Regions from separate parts of the Homo sapiens genome. Here region 1 is linked to region 2. The links come from fine-mapping of genetic effects on gene expression. Tissue or cell type: testis. Region 2 holds a variant in brackets; the other region holds the start of a gene. All regions are shown on one strand. Distances are from middle to middle.

Evidence for each region. PIP is the estimated chance that this variant, and not a neighbour inherited with it, causes the effect.
Region 1: MAP3K9 starts here. The variant in region 2 is fine-mapped to the expression of MAP3K9 in testis (GTEx, PIP above 0.99).

The regions. Positions count from the first base shown.
Region 1 is chr14:70,804,478-70,814,611 of GRCh38, reverse strand. MAP3K9 (mitogen-activated protein kinase kinase kinase 9) reads left to right here and starts at 5,099. Exons shown (of 12, transcript NM_001284230.2): 1 at 5,099-5,846. The coding sequence starts at 5,441. It overlaps MAP3K9-DT (MAP3K9 divergent transcript), which reads right to left and starts at 5,828. Exons shown (of 2, transcript NR_184164.1): 1 at 5,325-5,828. RefSeq lists a silencer at 4,898-5,537 and an enhancer at 6,478-6,537.
Region 2 is chr14:70,778,113-70,788,246 of GRCh38, reverse strand. The region is part of intron 2 of MAP3K9 (mitogen-activated protein kinase kinase kinase 9); the gene reads left to right. Among named protein-coding and RNA genes, the nearest start is that of MAP3K9-DT, 26 kb to the left of the region's middle. RefSeq lists an enhancer at 7,469-7,558. The variant G/AG (reference allele first, on the strand shown) is at 4,786.

The DNA of each region.
Region 1 (10,134 bases), 26 kb before region 2:
GGAGTTTATGAAACAGGAACTAGGGCTTCTTTCCTGAAATGGTACACATGAGAGGTGAAAGTGGTGGGCTGGCTCTTTTAGAAAAGGTCAAAGGGGCCAGGCACGGTGGCTCAAACCTGTAATCCCAGCATTTGAAGAGATGGAGGCAGGAGGATCACTTGAGGCCAAGAGTTTGAAGCCAGCCTGGGCAACACAGTGAGTCCTTATCTCTACCAAAAATTAACAAAATTTGCCAGGTGTGGTGGCACGCACCTGTAGTCCCAGCTACTCAGGATGCTGAGGCAGGAGGACCCACTGAGTCCAGGAGTTTGAGGCTGCCATGTGATCAGTGAGCTATGATCGTGCCACTGCTCTCCAGCCTGGGTGACACAGTGAGACCTTGTTTCTTTAAAAAAAAAAAAAAAAAAAGGTAAAAGTCTGCTTGAGGGATTTTTTTTTTTTACATCAAAGTACTAATTTTAAATATTTCCCAAAAGAATCAAGGAAAGGGTGACATTCATTAACTAAGTCACGGTTTAGGCTCAAATAATACCAGTAACTACATGCTAGATTATGTGTTAAGCACATAACATATATAAGATAGGTACAATTATCCCTAATTTCCAGGTGAGGGATCTGGGGCACAGCAGGGTTAACTTGCCTAATGGCACACAGTAAGCATAGATTCAAACTCAGTCAGAAGCCAAGACCCCAAATTCTTCAATAGTCTATGATGCCTGCCCTCTTTCTTCCCTTCCCTCCTTTCTTTCCTTCCTTTTCTCCCCTCCCTGCTTCCTTCCTGTTTTTCTCTTTTTCGTCCTTTCTTTCTTTCCCTCTCCTCCTGCCCTCCCTCCTTCCTTCACCCCTTCCTCTCCTCTCCTTTCTGTTCCTTTTTTTTTTTTTGAGAGAGAGGGTCTCGTTTTGTTACCCAGGCTAGAGTGCAGTGGAGCAATCTCAGCTCACTACAGCCTCAACATCTCTGCTCAAGCGATCCTCCCATCTCAGCCTCCCAAAAGCTAGGACCACAGGCACCACCATGCCTGGCTAATTTTTCTATTTTGTAGAGATGGGGTTTCACCATGTTGCCCAGGCTGGTCTTGAACTCCTCAGCTCAAGTGGTCCACCCATCTCGGCCTCCCAGAGGCCTCTGTTCCTTTTTCCTTCCTTCCTTCTCTCTCTTTCCTTTAGGGAAAACCCTGGGTTCAACTTTCAGTCAAGAGGCCTAGGTGTAATTAAAGAGTGTTTCTTGGGGGTAATGGGCAGGTGAAAGAAGGAAAAAAATATGTTGACTATTTGCTGGGTGTGAGCAGCAAGCTAAGAGCTTCTGCATGTCCTGTCTCATTTAATCCTGTAAACATCCATTAAAACCAGGTATTATTATTACACCTACTTAAAATTGAGGAAACTGAGGTTCAAACTGGTGTCTTGCCCAAAGTCACAGCATTTTTAAAGGACAAAGCCAGGATAAACCATGATCTGTTGACTTAAGTCTAATGCCAACTTGCATCTTGATTGCTATTTTCTCCCTTATGCTATGCTTTTCAGCGTGGTAGAGAAAATGTTTCTTTTTTGGGGTGACATCTGCCAATCCCCTCCTCAAAAACTTCATAGTGGTAAAATCTTGGTAATTCCACCTGACTTTCAAAGTCTTTTACAATCTGCCCTTCTTTTATTTCATCAGTTTTATTTCCCATCACTCCCTTTTTGCATTCTCTCCTCTTCTCTGGATGAAATTTCTATTATTGCTACCCACTACATTAATTTCTATTTCCACATCTTTTATTCTCTATTAATCAGGTTGTACATATCTTTCAATGCCCAACTTAAGCATCTCCTCATCCATTCTAGTCCTCAGGGAAGGCAGTATTTGATCACCCCACAGCCCTACTCAAAACCTTTCAGTGATAATCTTTTACATGCTGAACAAAACCAAGGCTTCTTCGCCTGGGATTCAAGTCAGCCATCCAGTTGCAAAGAAGTACTGAGAGTCAATTATGTGCTAAGCACTCTCTAGGTGCTGGGAGAGCTGTGGAGAACCAGACAGACTGGTTCCTACCCTTATGGTGGATGCACCAGACATTAAATAATTACAAATAATCAATTACATAATTACTAGTGTGAATCAAGTGATTACAGGGCCCTCTACAGTCTGGTCTCAACCTATCTTTTCAGTTCTTTCTCATCCTTCTATTCCATCCAAATGGTCCCCTCTCCATGCTTTCCTACGTCTGTGGCTGTGCCTATTCCCACCCTCCTTTCCTGAACACACTCTTCCCTGCTCCACCCCATTCCCCTCCAGGACCAGTTCTGGTTCTGCTTCTTCCATGCAACCCTGCCAGACAAGTTTAGTCTGAAAGATCTACCCTCATTTGAATTCCTAGCACTTACCCATTCAACAAATATTAACTGAATGACTTGTTGAAATGTTTGATGAATGATTCTTTATGAGATTCTAAACACATGCTATGGTATTAAAGGTTTAAGTTGCACAGGGAATTAGTTTTCCTATTGAGAAGAATCAATGATTTTTCTCCTCTCTTCCCCTCTTCCCAGGGAGTGGGAAGGAATCCACAAAACTAAATAGTAGAACATACGAAATTATGGAGAAGCAAAATGACAATAAACTTACCCAATTACTCATAATCCGACTACTTAGAGACCCACTACTGACATTTTTCTCTTTTTAGTACTTTTTTTCCTGTTTCTGTTTTGCTGTGTGTCTACAGTTTGTAAAACTTTTTTTCCCTCAAGTTAAAAAAAATTCTTTTTTTTGAGACAGGGTCTTGCTTTGTCACCAGATTGGAATGTGGTATAGCAAACACTGTTCACTACAGCCTTGACCTCCTAGGTTCAAGCAATCTTCCTGCCTCAGCCTCTCAAACAGCTGGGACTACAGGCTTGCACCACCATGCCTGGCAAATTTTAACATTTTTTGTAGAGATAGGGGTCTCGCCATGTTGCTCAGGCTGGTCTCCTTCCTGGGCTCAAGTGATCCTCCTGCCTCAGCCTCCCAAACTGCTGAGATTTCAGGCACGAGCCACCATACCCAGTCCTAAGTTAAAATTTTATCAAGACAATTATTTTCTTATGGCCTTTAAAAAAACACAATATACCTCCATCCCCACTCCCTTGCTCTCTGCTGCTTGACAGTGGAATGGTTTTGTCTAAAACAAAACCTAGATAATTTACTCAGACTCATCCATATCTTTTCCAGTTCATGGATCCTATGTATAATAGGAATCTGAGCATTGTTTTAGGTCTTTACTTAAACAGAAATCCTTTTTCAAGACCTACTCTGGATGCTTTTTAGAACAAGCCTCATCTCTCTTCTTCAAGACCTCAAATGTGTGCTATGACTATACAGTGTAGTCATATTGATGAGCGAACCACAGAATGTTCAAACTATGAGGACACAGGATATCTTCCAGTTCACTCCCCTCACTTTAAGAGTACAGTGTTAGGACACCTGCCTGAAGTCATGCAGCTGCCTAGTTATCTTTCCAAATTGCCCCGCTGTCTTTAGTTTGTGTAATAATAAACCCCAAACTAAAATTCAACAAAAGCACTCACCCTTGCTAAATAAATCATGTCTATTCCTACCACTGAAGGGGAAAAGGTAACAAAGTTTGGTAGAAGTTGGGCTAGATCCTTCAGCACTGGCTTATTTAGAAATTTCAGAGGACTAGGTGAGGTGGCTAAGGCCTGTAATCCTAGCACTTTGGGAGGCCGAGGCAGGTGGATGACTTCAGCCCAGAGTTCAAGACGAGCCTGTACTTCCAGCTACTCGGGAGGGTGAGGTGGGAGGATGGCTTGAGCCTAGGATGTTGAGGCTGCAGTGAGCCGAGATTGCGCCACTGCACTCTGGCCTGGACAACAAACTGAGACCCTGGAAGAAAAGAAAAGAAAAGAAAGGAAAAGAAAAGAAAAGAAAAGAAAAGAGAAAAAAAGATCAGAGAACCTTTCTTACTGGAAGTCAACGTTGCCACGACAGGATTAAAGCAAGAAGAAACATTATGGGCCTCCTATCTCGTCCTTAATGTTCAAAACGCAGGGTATAGCAAAGCATATAGGAAGAGGTCGTCCTCACTCGTGAACTCAGCATCGGGTTCTACGTTTATTCTGCTTTGGTTCTTCTTAATCTGACCTCTATAGACTTCGCCACGATCCAAGGTGTAATTCCAACAGGCAAAAGAAGTCTAAGGATTGTCGAAAAGGTGGCTCCCTTCAGACAGACCAAGCCCAATTCATGGCAGCGTTCCCAGCCCCAGTTTGAAGCTCAGTAAGGTGGTCTCTTGCCTTTCTGAATTCTGAAAAAAGAGTGGTATTGGAATCTCTTCTTACCGGAACCCAGGAGAGGGCGAGCTGTGGTGCAGTCCTCATAAAGGGGAGAACTGTAGTTTTCAGAGTTCTAATGAACATCCCAATGGGCCTAAAAGGCTTCAATAAGAGATGAAAGGTTCCGGGTGAGAGTGGGCGTGGGCGAAGCTGATCCCTCTAGGTCGGACTAAGGCAGAGCCAGATCCAAGAGGGAGAATCCAACTGTAAAAGGGATCTGGGGAAGAAAGAGCTCTGTTGGGGGTGCAGCCGGATGAAGAACACCGGTGCTGCTCAGTGCAGCCCCTACCCATCCATGGCAAACAAAGGCAGCTGCCTCCCTTCCAGCCTTTTAGTTTGAATGAAGGCTCAGTATTACCTTTTAGGATCCACCCTTCCCTTCTCACGCACCCAATGAGGCCGGAGCCTCTTCCTGCCGGGAGGTGCTGAACTCTCCCAGGAAACGGACAGGTGCCGCGAGCCAATGGAGGGAGCTGCGGCGGGCCAGTGGGCGGGAAGAGTGGGTCGACCTGGGTTTGAGAATGACAGAGCCCGCAATGGGGGAGGGCACGGTGCGACGGCGGCGCAGGGGGTGAGAGGGACCTGCGAGACGGCCAGCTAGGCTGCCCCAACCACGGCGGAGGAACCGGGGACTGGGCGGCCGCAGCCAATGGGAAGGCAGCGGGCGCGGGGCGGGGCGGGCGTGGGGCGGAGCCCCCTGGGGTCCGCAGGGCTGGGGCGGAGCCAGGCCCGCGTCAGGTGGTCCCGGCGAGCTGGCGGTGCGGGGGGCGGGGCACGGCACGGCGCGGAGAGGAGAGCGGCGGCCGGCTGGCAGCGGCGGGCACCGGCTGCGCGAGCAGGTACCGGCGGCAGAGGTGACGAGGCCGCCCCCGGGGGGGCGAGCGGGCAGGCGGGGACTCGGCCCGCTGCGCCCCTAGGCTGCGCGAAGAGCTCGCGCTCGGCGCTCTTCTCGTACCGCGGTAACAGCGCCGGCGAGCCGGCTCTCCCAGCCCTGCCAGCCCGGGCCCTACCTGCGGCCGCCGTCGTTGGGGGGGGGTCCTCCCAGCTCTGCGGAGGCGCATGAACAATAGGCGGCGGCGGCTCCTGCGGGCGGCGGCGGCCCCGCACCCTATGGATCGGCCGCTCCATGGAGCCCTCCAGAGCGCTTCTCGGCTGCCTAGCGAGCGCCGCCGCTGCCGCCCCGCCGGGGGAGGATGGAGCAGGGGCCGGGGCCGAGGAGGAGGAGGAGGAGGAGGAGGAGGCGGCGGCGGCGGTGGGCCCCGGGGAGCTGGGCTGCGACGCGCCGCTGCCCTACTGGACGGCCGTGTTCGAGTACGAGGCGGCGGGCGAGGACGAGCTGACCCTGCGGCTGGGCGACGTGGTGGAGGTGCTGTCCAAGGACTCGCAGGTGTCCGGCGACGAGGGCTGGTGGACCGGGCAGCTGAACCAGCGGGTGGGCATCTTCCCCAGCAACTACGTGACCCCGCGCAGCGCCTTCTCCAGCCGCTGCCAGCCCGGCGGCGAGGACCCCAGTTGCTACCCGCCCATTCAGTGTAAGGCGAAGGCGGGGCCGGGCGGGGAGGGGGAATGACGGAGGCCTGGGGGGCGGTCGGGGAAGGGGGGAGCACTGCGCGAGGGCTGGGATGAGGGCGGGGGGTGGGGAGGACGATTGACCTGGGTGTGGGTGGCGCGCGCTTAGGCTGCCCGGGCTTTGCTTGCTGGATAAGCTCGAGACGCCTCAGGCCCTGCCCGCACTTCAGACGCTTGGGCTTCTTCACCTTCAGTTGGCCACCTCAGCAGTGGCTCCCGATTTCCACATCCTGAAGTCCCAGTCTGAGAATTTGCCAGTTTCCCAGTCCCTTCTCTTACCCACCCCCCCGCCGCCCCCCATTCCCAATCTGGAAGTGTTTATGGCAAGATGGTGGTTAGTGTCCTAGCCTTAGTCCCCAAATCAGGGACCTTGCCACCACCTCTTCTAACGCCTGTCCCCGCCTCCTAAAGGCATTTGCTTTCAAAGAGATGGGGGTGTCTCCGCAGGGCTGAGCTGGCTCACAAGTCCCGGAAGCATGTGTGAACTCAAGGCTCAGTTGCCTGTAAAATGTCGGGTTGATTTCTTGGATCCTATTTCTTATATCTCAGAAGTTGTACCTTTAGGAGTCTCACTGATTAATGTGCTAAGAGGGATGTGTGTGTTGAGAGTGGGGGTGAGACAAGTGATGATTAGAGAGGAAAAAGTATGTCGTTCCCCCATGGGAGATCAGGATTGCAAGGTACAGTGGCTGAATCCCAGTCCTTTGACAGTGAGGCTGTTTGGGAAATACATTTTCTTCTTTCTTCTCATTCTAGATCCTTGCCTATCTTTGGAACTGGTCAAATCTCAGGGGGACCATGCTCAGGGGTCCCTCCCAGGGCCTTTCTCCCAGTGTCCTGGTTTCCGTCAATTTTCCAGGAGCCCCATATTTCATACCCTATAATGAAATCTTCTTTTTTTTTCAAGGGAGTTAAATTGCCATCACAATCCCTTAATCATACTAGTTTATTTCAGAAAAAAACATGTAAATATCTCTTTAGTGCAGTTTACACTATTTTGTATTTGAGAGTTTCCATAATCTCTTATCTGTTAAAAAGGTATTGTTAATATGTATTAATTACTGTTTATTCCTTATTTTGTATACTTTCATCTTAGTTGATTTTTTAAAACGTCATTAGCAAGGACCAACTTTAAATATTTAAATATTAAGATTTCCTTTGTAACAGTTACGTTTTTGGCTCTGTAAGTTATTTTTTACCCCAGCAATTGTGTTACTTTAATCTTGAGTTTTTTTGTTTTTTTGAGACAGTCTCGTTGTCTCCCAGGTTGGAGTTCAGTGGTGCAATCTCAGCTCACTGCAACCTCTGCCTCCCGGGTTCAAGCAATTCTCCTGCCTCAGCCTCCTGAGTAGCTGGGATTACAGGCGCCCGCCACCATGCCTGGCTAATTTTTGCATTTTTAGTAGAGATGAGGTTCACCATATTGGCCAAACTGGTCTCGAACTCCTGACCTCAAGTGATCCGCACGCCTCGGCCTTCCAAAGTGTTGGATTACAGGCGTGAGCCACCGTGTCTGGCCTATCTTTAGATGTTTTTTAAAAACTAGCACATAATATCAAAATCATAGCCTCTTCGCTTGTTTTTCTGCTCTTCTTTTTCTGTTGGTGTTTTGACTATCAAATCGATGTTCAAATCTTTAGGTTCCCCCTCTCCCTCTCATTCAGTTTAAAACTTCATTTTTCTTCATTTTGATCTTTAAAATGCCTGGAGGTAGCAAATTACTTTAAATTGTTTCCAGATACTACATCTTTTTGGGACTAGTTTGGTAGCCTTAAGGCTAAGCATCCTGGCATAGTGTTTTGAAAGTGTTGAAAATGAACTTGGTCATATATTGGAAGAAATATGAATAGCCTGGCATGTTAGAAAACAGTGTCATTTTAAACATAAGTCAGATTTTGATTCTGTGGGTGAAGTTTTGTGATTTTGTTTTCAGGGACAGCTAATGTCAAAGCAGAAGAGCTAGGTGAGGTTCGTGATCAGGAACTCGGTTTCTTCAATATCTTGTGCTCTGGCTGCTAGAGCAGTCAAGAGTCAGTATGACTTAGGCTGAAAAACTGTCCACAGAGCTAGGCATGGCAACAGCGTGCTACTTTTTCATTTGGTGGCCAGGACTTATCTTCATTGTCATACAAGTTATCTTGGATAGAGTGGATTCCTAAATCTGGAACCCAGATGTTGAGAAAGTAGGAAGTAACTTGTTCTAATGGAAAGAATTAACTTGAAGAATATGGCATTTGAAAGACCTGACACGTTCTTTTATTTGGCCTCACTAGGAGTTCTGATCTTGACTAGAATTAATTTTTGATAATTCAGAAAATTTAGTTTCAGTCAAAAACTAATTATTGAGTACCTAGTGAGTGATAGATACTGTACACTGTGTTAAGTACCAGGACATAAAGAAGTGATAAGATCAGAAGTTGCTTATAAGTTACATGAGGGAGATTAAGTATGTAAATATAAAACTTCAGTGCAGTGCCTTGGTTCATCAGAGGGTGAACATGGGCGGTCATTGAAGTCTATGTGCTCTACCAGATCAGTTTGTGTCACTCGGAAAGTGAAGACGATTGACAAACCTTGTCTCCGAAGACTTGGAATGAAATTGAGCCACTGACACTTCATCGCCAGAGTTACCCTTTTGAACTTCTCCTCTGAGCATGTGTTGTGACGTTGCATTCTGGACCATGAATAGAAGACATTAAGTCAAGCAATACTGTTCAGCTTTAGTTTCATATTATTGCTTCTTAAAGTGAAAATTTAGCTTCAAACTTTATTTAAAAGCTTTTTTTGTTTTTTTAATTTTTAGAGACAGGTTTTCACTCTGTCGCCCAGGCTGAAGTGCAGTGGCATAATCATAGCTCATTGCAACCTTGAACTCCTGGGCTCAAGAGATCCTCCCACCCCAGCCTCCCAAAGAAGCTGGGACCAGAGGCGCATGCCACCATGCCCAGCCAATTATTTTTATTTACTTTTTTAACAGAGGTGAGGTCTTGCTTTGTTGCCCAGGCTGGTTTCAAACTCTTGGCTTCAATCATTCCTCCCACCTCAGCCTTCCAGAGTGTTGGGATTATAGGCATAAGCCACTGTATCTGGCCTCAAACTTTATTCAAAACAGAAGGGGAAATTACTAAATATTATGACAAAGAAAACATATAAAAATGATATTATAAATCATTTTACATTCATATAATGCTTTAATCCTCTCCATTGTAGGTACTTGTTAGAGTTTAGCTGTCTATGGATGACAAGTATAAATAACCCAGGAGCTCATCCATCGTCTTTATTTTAGTGAAAGATGAAAAATGTACAGTTCCAAACTCATTATCTTGGGAGATGCAATCCTAGGTATTATATGAAAGTTTCTCTAACAAGAGAGTTGTTTCAGTTTTCAAACAGGGCATACATTAAGGTTATTAGTTTATGTTTTTTATTATCTACATCCACTAGAAATAGAAGGACATATTTTCAGATGTACCTAAGATTTTTGAGTGAAGTATATAACATTCACTTACTCAAAACCCACCAAAATATGCCTAAACATTCAGTTTCCAAGCATACGATTGAGAGGGAATAACATCTTGACTTTAAAAATGGAAGAACTAAGGATTTATTCCTGATATTCCTGGAAATATCCTTCCACAGAAACTGAAAAATGTGCTGAATGCAGCTTGACCTGATTCTTACTTAAAACCAGGTCTTGACTGGAGCAGGGAAGGGAAGGAGAGCCCCACATACTCTGCTGCAGCTGAAGGTCTAGTTCCTTCGTTCCTATCCACAGGGACTGAGCAGGGAAGGAAAAAGAAGGTCCTTCCTCCCTCCCTTCTTTCTGGGTTCTGTCTTTTATCTGCTTGAAAGTTGTGTTCTATACTTTTCTTGGAGTCAGGTCATAATATTTGCTTAACTAAATAGCAAGAACCTGAGATTTTTATGTTCTACTCAAAGAGAGGTTATTGCTTTCCCTTCCCTGCAGAGGTTTTTAGAGGAGCTGTCCTTTCAGCACCCTAGTACTGAATCATGTCTTTTAAACCTCCCTGCATTTATTTTTTCAATCCCTCCTGCATTTAAATGAATATTTAACACCTACTGTGTGTTTACAACTATGCTTAAGACTGGAGGAAAGAAGGGAGGGTACAAGAGAAAGTACAATAGTTAAAATTCCCTTAAGGAGAATTCAGATACTCAGTTGAGGAAATAAGAAAACAGATACAAATTTGTTAAGTAATCACACATCTTTTCATATGTGTAAAAGCTGCT
Region 2 (10,134 bases):
ATTTTCATTGTTTTAGTCATATTCTTTCCAGTTGTACTGTAGAATTTAAAAAATTCAAAATGTAGTGGATACACATGGGTAAAAATAGGACAAAATTGAAATACAAAGAAAAGTCTGTCTCCAGAAAAAGAGAGAGAAAAAAGAAAAGTCTCTGTCCTTCCCTCCCAAACCCTAAGTTTACTTCTTAGAGGCAAATGCGATTAAGTATCTTTTTGTCTCTGATAACTTTTTTTCTATGAAAACATAGAAATCCCAATAGAATTCTGGACAGCAGAGGTGTTGCTGTTTTTCATCCCTTCGTCTTCCCTTGCTCCCCCCATCTCTGTCTCCCCTCACATCATCCCTAGTATAGGACTTCGCATGTAGCAGCCCAGGTGTTTGGTGGCAATTCCAATGTGGCCAACCAAAAAATCTTGTTTTGTTTGTGTGTTTTTTTTTGTCCCTAGTTCCTTTCTGGATGGACTCAAAACACTTTTACTGAATGAGCTTTGTTTGTTCTCTTCAAGCCTTTGCTTTTATATATCTATTTCATAAACTTCTCAGGGGCTTGGGACCCTAGAGGAAGGTGTTCCTTGGAGTAGCTTGTAAAGTCAGAAGCCCAATGTGTGTCTTTGGAATTGCCCAGCTGTGAAGGTACTGACTGTCCATCCATCCCTTGGAGCAGGTTTGGGAGTGGGGCCCATTGCAGCAGGTGGGCATCAGGATGCTGGCAATGACCGATCTTTTTTTTTTTTTTTTTGAGACAGAGTCTTGTACTGTTGCCCGAGCTGGTGTGCAGTGGTGCCATCTCGGCTTGCTGCAACCTCTGCCTCTGAGGTTCAAGTGATTCTCCTGCCTCAGCCTCCCGAGTAGCTAGGATTACAGGTGCCCGCCACCACACCCAGCTAGTTTTTTGTATTTTTAGTAGAGACGGGGTTTCACTATGTTGGCCAGGCTGGTCTCAAACTCCTGACCTTGTGATCCGCCCGTCTTGGCCTCCCAAAGTGCTAGGATTACAGGTGTGAGCCACTGCGCCCAGCCAGTGACTGATCTTATAGTTAAGATCTTTCTCTGCAAATCCTTGTGACTGCAAGCTGATGTGGCTTATGAGGCAATATAACAGGAAAAAGTATCATTGAAAAAGGAAAAAAAAATAGTTATGCTAGATTCCAGTGTGCAGATACAACTGTTTTCATCTTTATATTTGGCTTTCCTATTCTTATCTATATACCTCATCTCCTCCTGCTGTTTTATTCACGGTGTACATGCCATCTGGACACTTAAAATTTGTTTTTGTTTCTGCATTCTGTTAACCTTCAGGGTCCAAGAGGAAGGAGGATGCCTTAATCAGTGAGTACCAAGAAAAACCAAAAAACTAAAAATAAAAACAATAAATAAGAGGAAGGAGAAAAGGACTGTGGGTAGGGAAAATAGCGATAGATTTTGGATTCTGGTCATTCTTGACTTTCTTTTTTGCTTATAGATATGATTAGAGCTTACTGGAACCTTACAGTTGTGAACTAGAGAAGCTGAGTGACTTGCCTAAGGTCATCCTGATGCTCATGATAGTGTTCCTTCTTTTAGCCCGACAATGGAACACTGTTACTCTGCCAGGCTTTCCAGCTAGGACCAAAGTATTTCAGACAACAGTGGAAACAGGATCTGTACCCCATTCGAGGAACCAGGGGGACAATTTCCTTGTAAGGTCCCAAGGTCAAAGTTTGGGGTGAAGTCAGTGTTTTTCCTGGTTACTAACATGAACTCGGTCTTTGGTATGTTATGTAGAAGGATAACAGTGTTCAGTATTCTTCTAGGTGGTACAATTTTTAGGAAGAAAAGAATAATAAAAACATTTTTTATTTCTTAAGCAGTAGACTCCTGGCTCCCTGTGCTTAGAGATAGGAATCCCCGCTGAGAGATAGATGGGAATCCTGGAGTGGATTGTTAATAATCTCCCTGTTATTGGCACAGTTGTGTGATAGAGAGTTGTTTTCCCCTCTCCCCTGCCTTAGGAGACCTACCCTTACTAAGTATTTGGATTAAATTAATAATAAAATAGCTTGCTTTGCCCAAATGCACAGCAGCTAGTGACAAGGGGAGATGCCACATCACATCCCATGGATGGCAATGGAAAATCAACTAAGGACGTAAAATTTTCCCACATAAGCTTCAGATGACTTAAGATTATTAGTGTAACCTGATATTATCTGATACTCTCCTTGGCTTATTATTCATGGTGACAGTAATACATGGCCCTCATTTCCTTCATCCCCCAAATAGTCCTAGAGGTAGTAGAAAGAGTATGGTAGTCCCCTCTTATCTGCCATTTCACTCTCCCTGTTTTTAGTTACTCATAGTCAACTGTGGTCCAGAAATATTACATGGAACATTCTAGAAATAACGATTCATAAGTTTTAAATTGCACACCATTCTGAGTAGCGCAATGAAGTCTCACGCCTTCCCACCCCTTCTTGTGTGGGATGTGAATCACATCCTGTCCAGCATGTCCACACTGGGTGTACTACCTGCCCATTAGTCATCCACATGGTCTGTCCTGACATCCAACCATTGACATTGTCACAACTCAATGATCCCGGGTCATCCAAAGCAGACGATCCTCTGACTACACATCAGAAGGTTGGGAGTACCAAACACTGTGTCACTGTGTCACCTCGCCTATGTCATCTACCGCGCACTTCATCTCATCACGTACCCATTTTTTCATCTCATAACGTCACAAGAAGGGCGAATACAGTACAACAAGATCTTTTCAGAGAGAGAGAGAAACCACATTAATAAAACTTTTCTTATAGTATAGTTGTTCTATTTTATTGTTAGTGTTAATCTCTTACTGTGCCTAATTTATAAATTAAACTTTATCATAGGTATGAATGTATAGGAAAAAACAGTATATACAGGGTTCTATCCATGGATTGGGGCATCCACTGGGGATCCTGGAATGTGTCCCCTGAAGATAAGGAGGGACTCCTGTAATCATGCTTTGTATTTGGTCCTTTAGAATTTTATTTGAAACAGTATCTACCTGAGGTACTCCAGGAAGAGGTGGTAGTATCCCCATTTTATAACAGAGGAAGCTGAGGCTCAGGGAGGTTTAACAATGCCCTGCCCAAGAACACATAGCTAGAGAATGATAGGGCCTGGACTCAAATACCAGGCTCTTGAGTGCTTGCATGGTTTTCTTTCTGCTCTGCTTGTTGGAAACAGACTGCAATAGGAGATCCTTCTCTAGCACCTTGTTCTGCAGGACGGACCCTGTGACTCACCAGAGTCTGGGTGCAACAGGGCTAGACCTGGACATTAAACCTGGTCTTGGGGACTTTGTGGGGTAGATCATCCCCACATTTCGAACTACAGATAGGGGATCCTTTATTTCTCCAACCCAGGACCTCTGGTACCTCCAGACCTGATGGTCCTAAAATGCACAAGACCTGAGAGCTAGTTTCTCATTTCTCTTTTCCCCAGGGCCCCTCCAAAAGCACAATTTGAACCTCAGCCATCCTTCTGTAGCCTCAGGTTTGCTTCTTCTTCCATCTCACTCACTCTGTCTCCCAGGCTGGAGTACAGTGGCCTCCACTTCCCGGGTTCGAGCAGTTCTCCTGCATCAGCCTCCTGAGTAGCTGGGATTACTGACGCCTGCCACCACACCTGGCTAATTTTTGTATTTTCAGTAGAGATGGGGTTTCAACATATTGGCCAGGCTGGTCTTGAACTCCTGTCCTCAAGTGATCTGCCCACCTCGGCCTCCCAAAGTTGTGGGATTACAGGCATGAGCCACTGTGCCCGGCTTCAGCTTTGCTTCTTGTTAGTGTTTGTCCTGAACCAAAATTGTGCTTGCATACAGCTGTCCAGAAGTTGGGCCATCGCAGAAGCTTCCATGTTATTGGGCTCTTGTACTTACTTGTGTTTGTGTTGTGGTTTTGTTTTTTATTTTATTTTATTTATTTTAGTATTTTTTTTTGTTTTGAGACGGAGTTTTGCTCTTGTTTCCCAGGCTGGAGTGCAGTGGCGCGATCTCAGCTTGCTGCAGCCTCCACCTCCCGGGTTCAAGCGATTCTCCTGCCTCAGCCTCTCAAGTAGCTGGGATTACAGGCATGCACCACCATGCCCAGCTAGTTTTGTATTTTTAGTAGAGGTGCAATTTCACCATGTTGGTCAAGCTGGTCTCGAACTCCTGACTTCAGGCTATCTGCCTGCCTCGGCCTCCCAAAGTGCTGGGATTACAGGCGTGAGCCACTGCGCCTGGCCGTGGTTTGTTTTTGTTTAAACAAAAGAAGTATATATAGATTTCAGATACATTCACAGATGATTGTTTATGGAATTTAAAAAATTTTAACCAGAAAAGTAATATAAACATTCAAAAAGGGTTTGGACACGTCTGTTAATTGCAGAGCCCTGTGTGGTTATTCAGATGCCACGTCTTTCAGCTCTGTGTAGTCTGGGAGGTGAGCGGGCCTTTCTGGGGTGTTTCTTTGCAGCTGAATTTATGGCCAAATGGACCATGCGTGAGCAAGAGAGCAGTTCCATTCCTCCTGGAGGAGCGCTGAGCATGCTTTGTGGTGCCCACTTAACACTTTTAGATGAATACTATGAAAGACAAATTTGACTTCACTGTTCATTCCTTGAAGCTCCAATTTGGATTGATTGCTGGTGGAATAACACCTGGACTATCAATGAGTGAAGCCTCCCGGCTATTTCCTTCGCCCACCTCACAAAGAGAATTTGGATTTTGCTGCTCCTGGAACTTTAGAGCTTTGTGATGGGAGGAAAGGGGAGGGGACAAAGAGT[G/AG]AATCCTTCAGGAGCTCTTTTGGGAGGAATTTTGAGCAGGAAATGAGGGAGCTTCTTTCTATAAGGACAGTGGATGGAATTAAAAAGGGGTATTTGAGGAAGCGTTGCTGTGGATCATATGAAACCTTTGGATGCTCAAGAAAAATAAGAGTCAGACTAATTTGAATTTACTTTAGGATGCCGTCTTCCTTCCCACCTTACCGTTGTTTGGACACAGTACTGTCCTGGGCTTCTAACATGTGAGTCTGTGGCTTTATATGCTTGACTCTAGTTGCATGGACCATGAATCTGGCCAATTTTAGGTTTCTTACAAGCATTTTGATGCTTGATTTGATGTGTAGTATATTGGTGGAGAGACTGGGATAATGACCTTCCAGGAAGAGTAAAAGTGACCCCACTGAGGAAAAATAAGATATTCTAAGACTTTTCCTTACATGGGCATTCACTGAAGGCAGAGAACACGGCATTTGAGCGTTTTCCCAGCAGTTTCTGGGTATGCCTGTTATGCCCACCTTCCAGGTAGCAGGGAAGGAAGGAAAGGACTGGCTTTCACCTGGAAACTGAGGTGTAACATCTAGAGAATTTGTATAGTTTTGAATTTTCCCTACCATGGTGAGATCCTCAACTCTGTCTCATGGGGAACAGGATTTGTAGAGTAATATTCAGAGGTAGACTAGGAAGATGCTAGGAAGTCTCATCTTCCCCATGCAATGGACATGGAGGTGGGAGGAAGGAATTAGAAAAGCATCCATATCATAGACTGAAAGACAGTGAGTCAGAGCAAAGCTAGTCTTGGCCTGAGGAGGTACTTGAGGTTGGTTCCTCCCTGCTCTTACATGGAGAGGTTGAAAAGTGATTCATAGGAAACTTTAATTGGTGTTTCATAGCTTTCCAGGGCTATTAAGGACTTGTGGTTCACAATGGCAACTCCCAGTGTTTCGAGCCTTTGTGGTTGGGACTTCCTTGCCTGCAAGGTGATGGGATGAAGGTGGTATCTGTGGTGGCTTGTACCGCTTCCTCCTCTGCCCTCAAATCCTTTCTCCTCTGCAATGCCTGGGGTGAAGTGCAGGTCACAGAGCCTGGAATGTTTTCTTTTTGTATAGATCATGATTCTCAACCGATGTGGGTAATTTTATTACCCAAATGTCCTCATAAGAAATTGACGTGCCTGCTATTGCATACATGCTGTAAGAAATACGGTCAATTTATTATATACATAACATAGAGGTCACTTCCACTGCATTCTTTCCATCCTTAGGAGTTGTGCTATGTAAACACATCCTAAACAACCAGAACAGTGTGATGTAGTAGGGGGCAGCGTGTCAAGATACATGAGATGGGGTCTGGAGAAGGCAGAATTCCCTGGGAGGCCTTGATGGAACAATTAGGCCTCAAAGAAGGGGTAGGATTCAAGAGTTGGTAATAGGGCAGGTAGGCCATAGCTATGACCTCCCAGGGAAGGCGGCCTGCCCCAGCTCAGACAGAGCCAAGTGTTCACTGATGCCATGTCCCATCACCTGGGTTCTTTAGGCAATTCCCAGACCTGGAATGTTGACTAGGAAAGCCATGCTCCCAAGAAGTTGAGTCTTCCATGTGAAACAGCTCCTCTTTCTAAGTGGCCAGAGAACCTGGGCTGGTACAGTTGTGGGCTGGTACAGTTGTGGGCTCTGAATCAGGCAGACCTGGCTTTGGGCAAAGTCCTCGACCCTGAGCCCATTTCCTCCTCTGTAAAATGGGGATAATTCTAGTATTTACTCATGGCATTATAATGAGGATTAAATGAAGTTATGTGTGTAAACCCTTAGCATAATGCCTGGCACAAAGTAAATGCTCAGTAAAAGGTAGTTTTTCCTTTTTAAAAAATTCAAGAGCAGCAGCAGATATGAGACTAGACTCACAGTGTATCACCTACTGTTTCCATTACTATTTCTTCAGAACAAACGACCCCAAACAAGAACATTTTATTAAGCTCATGGAGACTTGGGTCAGGAATTTGGAAAGAGCTCATTAGGGATGGCTTGTCAATGTCTGGGGCCTCACCTGGGAAGACTTGAAGGCTAGGGGAGGCTGCAGATGGAGGCAGGAACCATCTGAAGGTTGTTCACACACATGGCTCAGTGCCTGAGCTGGGAGAAGCTGGAGGCCAGGACTGCTGATGGGAGTGCCCATGTGCAGTCTGTCCATGAGCATGGCTCTCTTAGGGCTCTTGGCCTTACATAGTGGCTCAAGGCTGCAGACCCAAGTGTTCCAGTGAACATGGGGAAGCTGTAGCATCTTTTCTGATCTAGCTTAGAAGTCGGGCATTGTCATTTCTTCTGCATTCTGTTAAAGTGAGTCTCAAGACCACTCAGCTTCAAGTGGAGAGGACACAGACCCACCTCTCAGTGGGAAAAGTGTCAAGATCACACTGGGGAAAAGCACAGAGGATGGGAGATGATGGACCACTTTGAAAATGCAACCTTCCATGCCTGCTAAGGGAACTCTGCTAGCAGAGCTTGGGGATACAAGGCCCTGGAGAGCCTGTGCGGCGGCTGCACCCCATGGCCACCTGCCAAGAAAGAACTGCTTTCTGTTGACAAAACCATCGAGCATCTGATAGGCTTCCTCTTTTTTGGTTATTTTTATCTGGTATGTAGCTGGGTACTTCAGAGGTATGACGGAGATCTGGCAGCTCTTCTCAGTCAGTTTGAGCTGATACGATGAGAAAATTCAGGGGAGGCAGGTGTTTAAGGAGATGTTCTTTAGTAAGGAAAGTGGCTGCACAAAAGCCTCTGGCTTTCTGTTTCCTGCTGGTGATATCTGCGCCTGGATGAGGTGAGGGATGGAGTCCCAGCTGTGTTTTCTGGGCTTAATTTGCACAAGATGGCAAGGGCTGTAGGTGTCCAAGTTGACGCCTTTTGAAGCAGTTATATTTTAGGATGTTAGAGAGAGCTAGGTGTCCTGCAGACACGTGGGAGGTTTGGTCAGGGAGATGGTGCTTATTCTTCTGTTTTAATCATGAGAACCTTTCACTCAGCAGCATGGGAGATGTGGGAAGTGGGTACGGCCTCCAAGAAAGAGATGAAAGTGAAGTTCCCATAGAAAGTTGGGGCTGGTTAAAGGAGTCATTTTTCAAGGCTGATGAATTGTGCTGTGCCTACAGGAGGCCTATAAATATATTAGTTCCCTATCATGTCTCCTTCTATCCTCCAGCCCAACAAGGCAGCAGAAATCCACACCTCATGCTGTTAAGTCATGCGGCAGGCATGGATGTGGGCACATTATGAGGAAGCCTGGTGCTTTGGGTTGTTTCTCCAGTGCTGGTCCACATGAATACATCTGATTTGTTCCCTTGTTCCCCAGAACACATATGCACATTATGGCCAGCCAGAGTTGTTTGGGAGTGGCCTGGTTCAAACTATCACCCTAGTATCCCAATCTTGTTAACTAACCAGCCTGTCTGAAAACTTTGCATAAGGCCTGGGTGCCTGTCTGAAGGATCAAGACACTAGCCAGCCCCAGGAAGCTCATCTATCCGTTCTGTCTCCTCTGACGTCATTCTTAGGTTGTGCCATTCCCTGAGTTCCTTGCTGCATGCCCTTGGCTGACATTGCAAAGTGCATTGCACTGATACCTGGGGGCTTGCCAGAGATGTCCCAAATGAATGCAGGACTGAGCCGCGTTGGCAAGGAGTGGCTGTTCTCAGCATGCCAGAACTGTGGAATTGCATCTGGTCTAGTTAGTAGCAGTCAGTAATATGTGAGTTGGTAGCTACAACTGAAAATGAAGGAACCCTGTTTCTAGGTGTTTGTGGCTGCAGAAGCTTCAGTTCCTGTTGGAAGGGAAGAGTGGGTGGGTGAATGTTAGCCTAGAGGTAGGAGGAGTGGGACCACTAAACCCCGCTGAACTCACTAAATGCTAGTATATTCCTGTGAGATTGGTGACATACAGGGACTTAGCCAGAGCAAGTAAGTGATGTGATGTCAGAGAGATTTCCTAGGACTCATGGACCACTCTTTCTCCGTGTATGTGAAATTAATTACTCTGTCTGACTGTCCCATCCTTTCCATCCCCAGTACTTGAGTTTGTCATTCACCATTGTCCCCTGGACAATTGTAATAGGTTACTTACTGTGGCTCACTGCCAGTCTGTTGCTTTTTCAGTTTAATTTGTCTCACTGCAACCATAGTTGTTTTGCTGAAACTCAAATCTTGTCACAACACTTTTCTGCTTAAAAACTACTTGTGACTCCAGGGTCATTTCCAAGTTCCTTGGCAGGGTCTGTAGTCTTCCAGTCCTGCCCCAGCCCTTCACTGCGGCTCCTTCTTCTCCCTTTCTACCTCATGAAAGTTCTGCTCCAGCTACAAGGGACTATTTCTTAGATATGTCAAGGCCCCTCAGCCCTCTTGGACCTGGACTCACGTTATTCCCTCTGCTGGGAGTGGTCTTTCTTCTGATTCTCCCCCTGGACCAAACCCTGTCCTCTCGTTACAGCACAGAGAGCAGTTGTTTATTCTGTGAGCCCCTTCTAAGGAGCCCCTTCCTCTGTACATTCTAGTTTCAGGCATCCTCCATGTTAGGTGTTCAAACAAGATGGGTGGACGGGGTAGGGTAAGGCATCATCAAGAGCATGAGAGTAGCCAGTGGTCCCCACTTTACCACTTTCTGGCTGGGTAGCTCAGGGGAATATCCTCACTTCTCAGCCACAGCTTCTTCATCTGTAAGTAGAGATTAAAACAGTACATATCCGTAAATAGAGATTAAAACAGTACATCTGTTTTTATATAAGTACTGCACGTAAAATGCTTAGCATGGTGCCTGCCATGTGGTAAGTGCTCAGTAAATGCTAGCAATGATGATGACAGTGTTATAGGTGTAGACTTATATGGCCAGAATGAGAGAAGTTTGGCCTGGTGCAGTGGCTCATGCCTGTAACCCCTGCACTTTGGGAGGCCGAGGACGGTGGATCACCTGAGGTCAGGAGTTTGAGACCAGCCTGGCCAACATGGCGAAACCCCGTCTCTGCTAAAAACACAAAAATTAGCCAGGTGTGGTGGCACATACCTGTAATCCCAGCTACTCAGGAGGCTGAGGCATGAGAATTGCTTGAACCTGAGAGACGGAGTTGCAGTGAGCAGAGATCGCGTCGTGACACTCCAACCTGGGTGACAAAGGGGGACTCCGTCTCAAAAAAAAAAAAAAAAAATAGCTGGGCGTGGTGATGTGTGCCTGTGGTTGAGGCTACTTGGGAGGCTGAGGTGGGAGGATTGCTTGAGCCCAAGGCAGCAGGGGGCAGAGGTTGCAGTGAGCTGAGATTATACCACTGCACTCCAGCCTGGGTGACAGAGTGATACCTTGTCTCAAAACAAC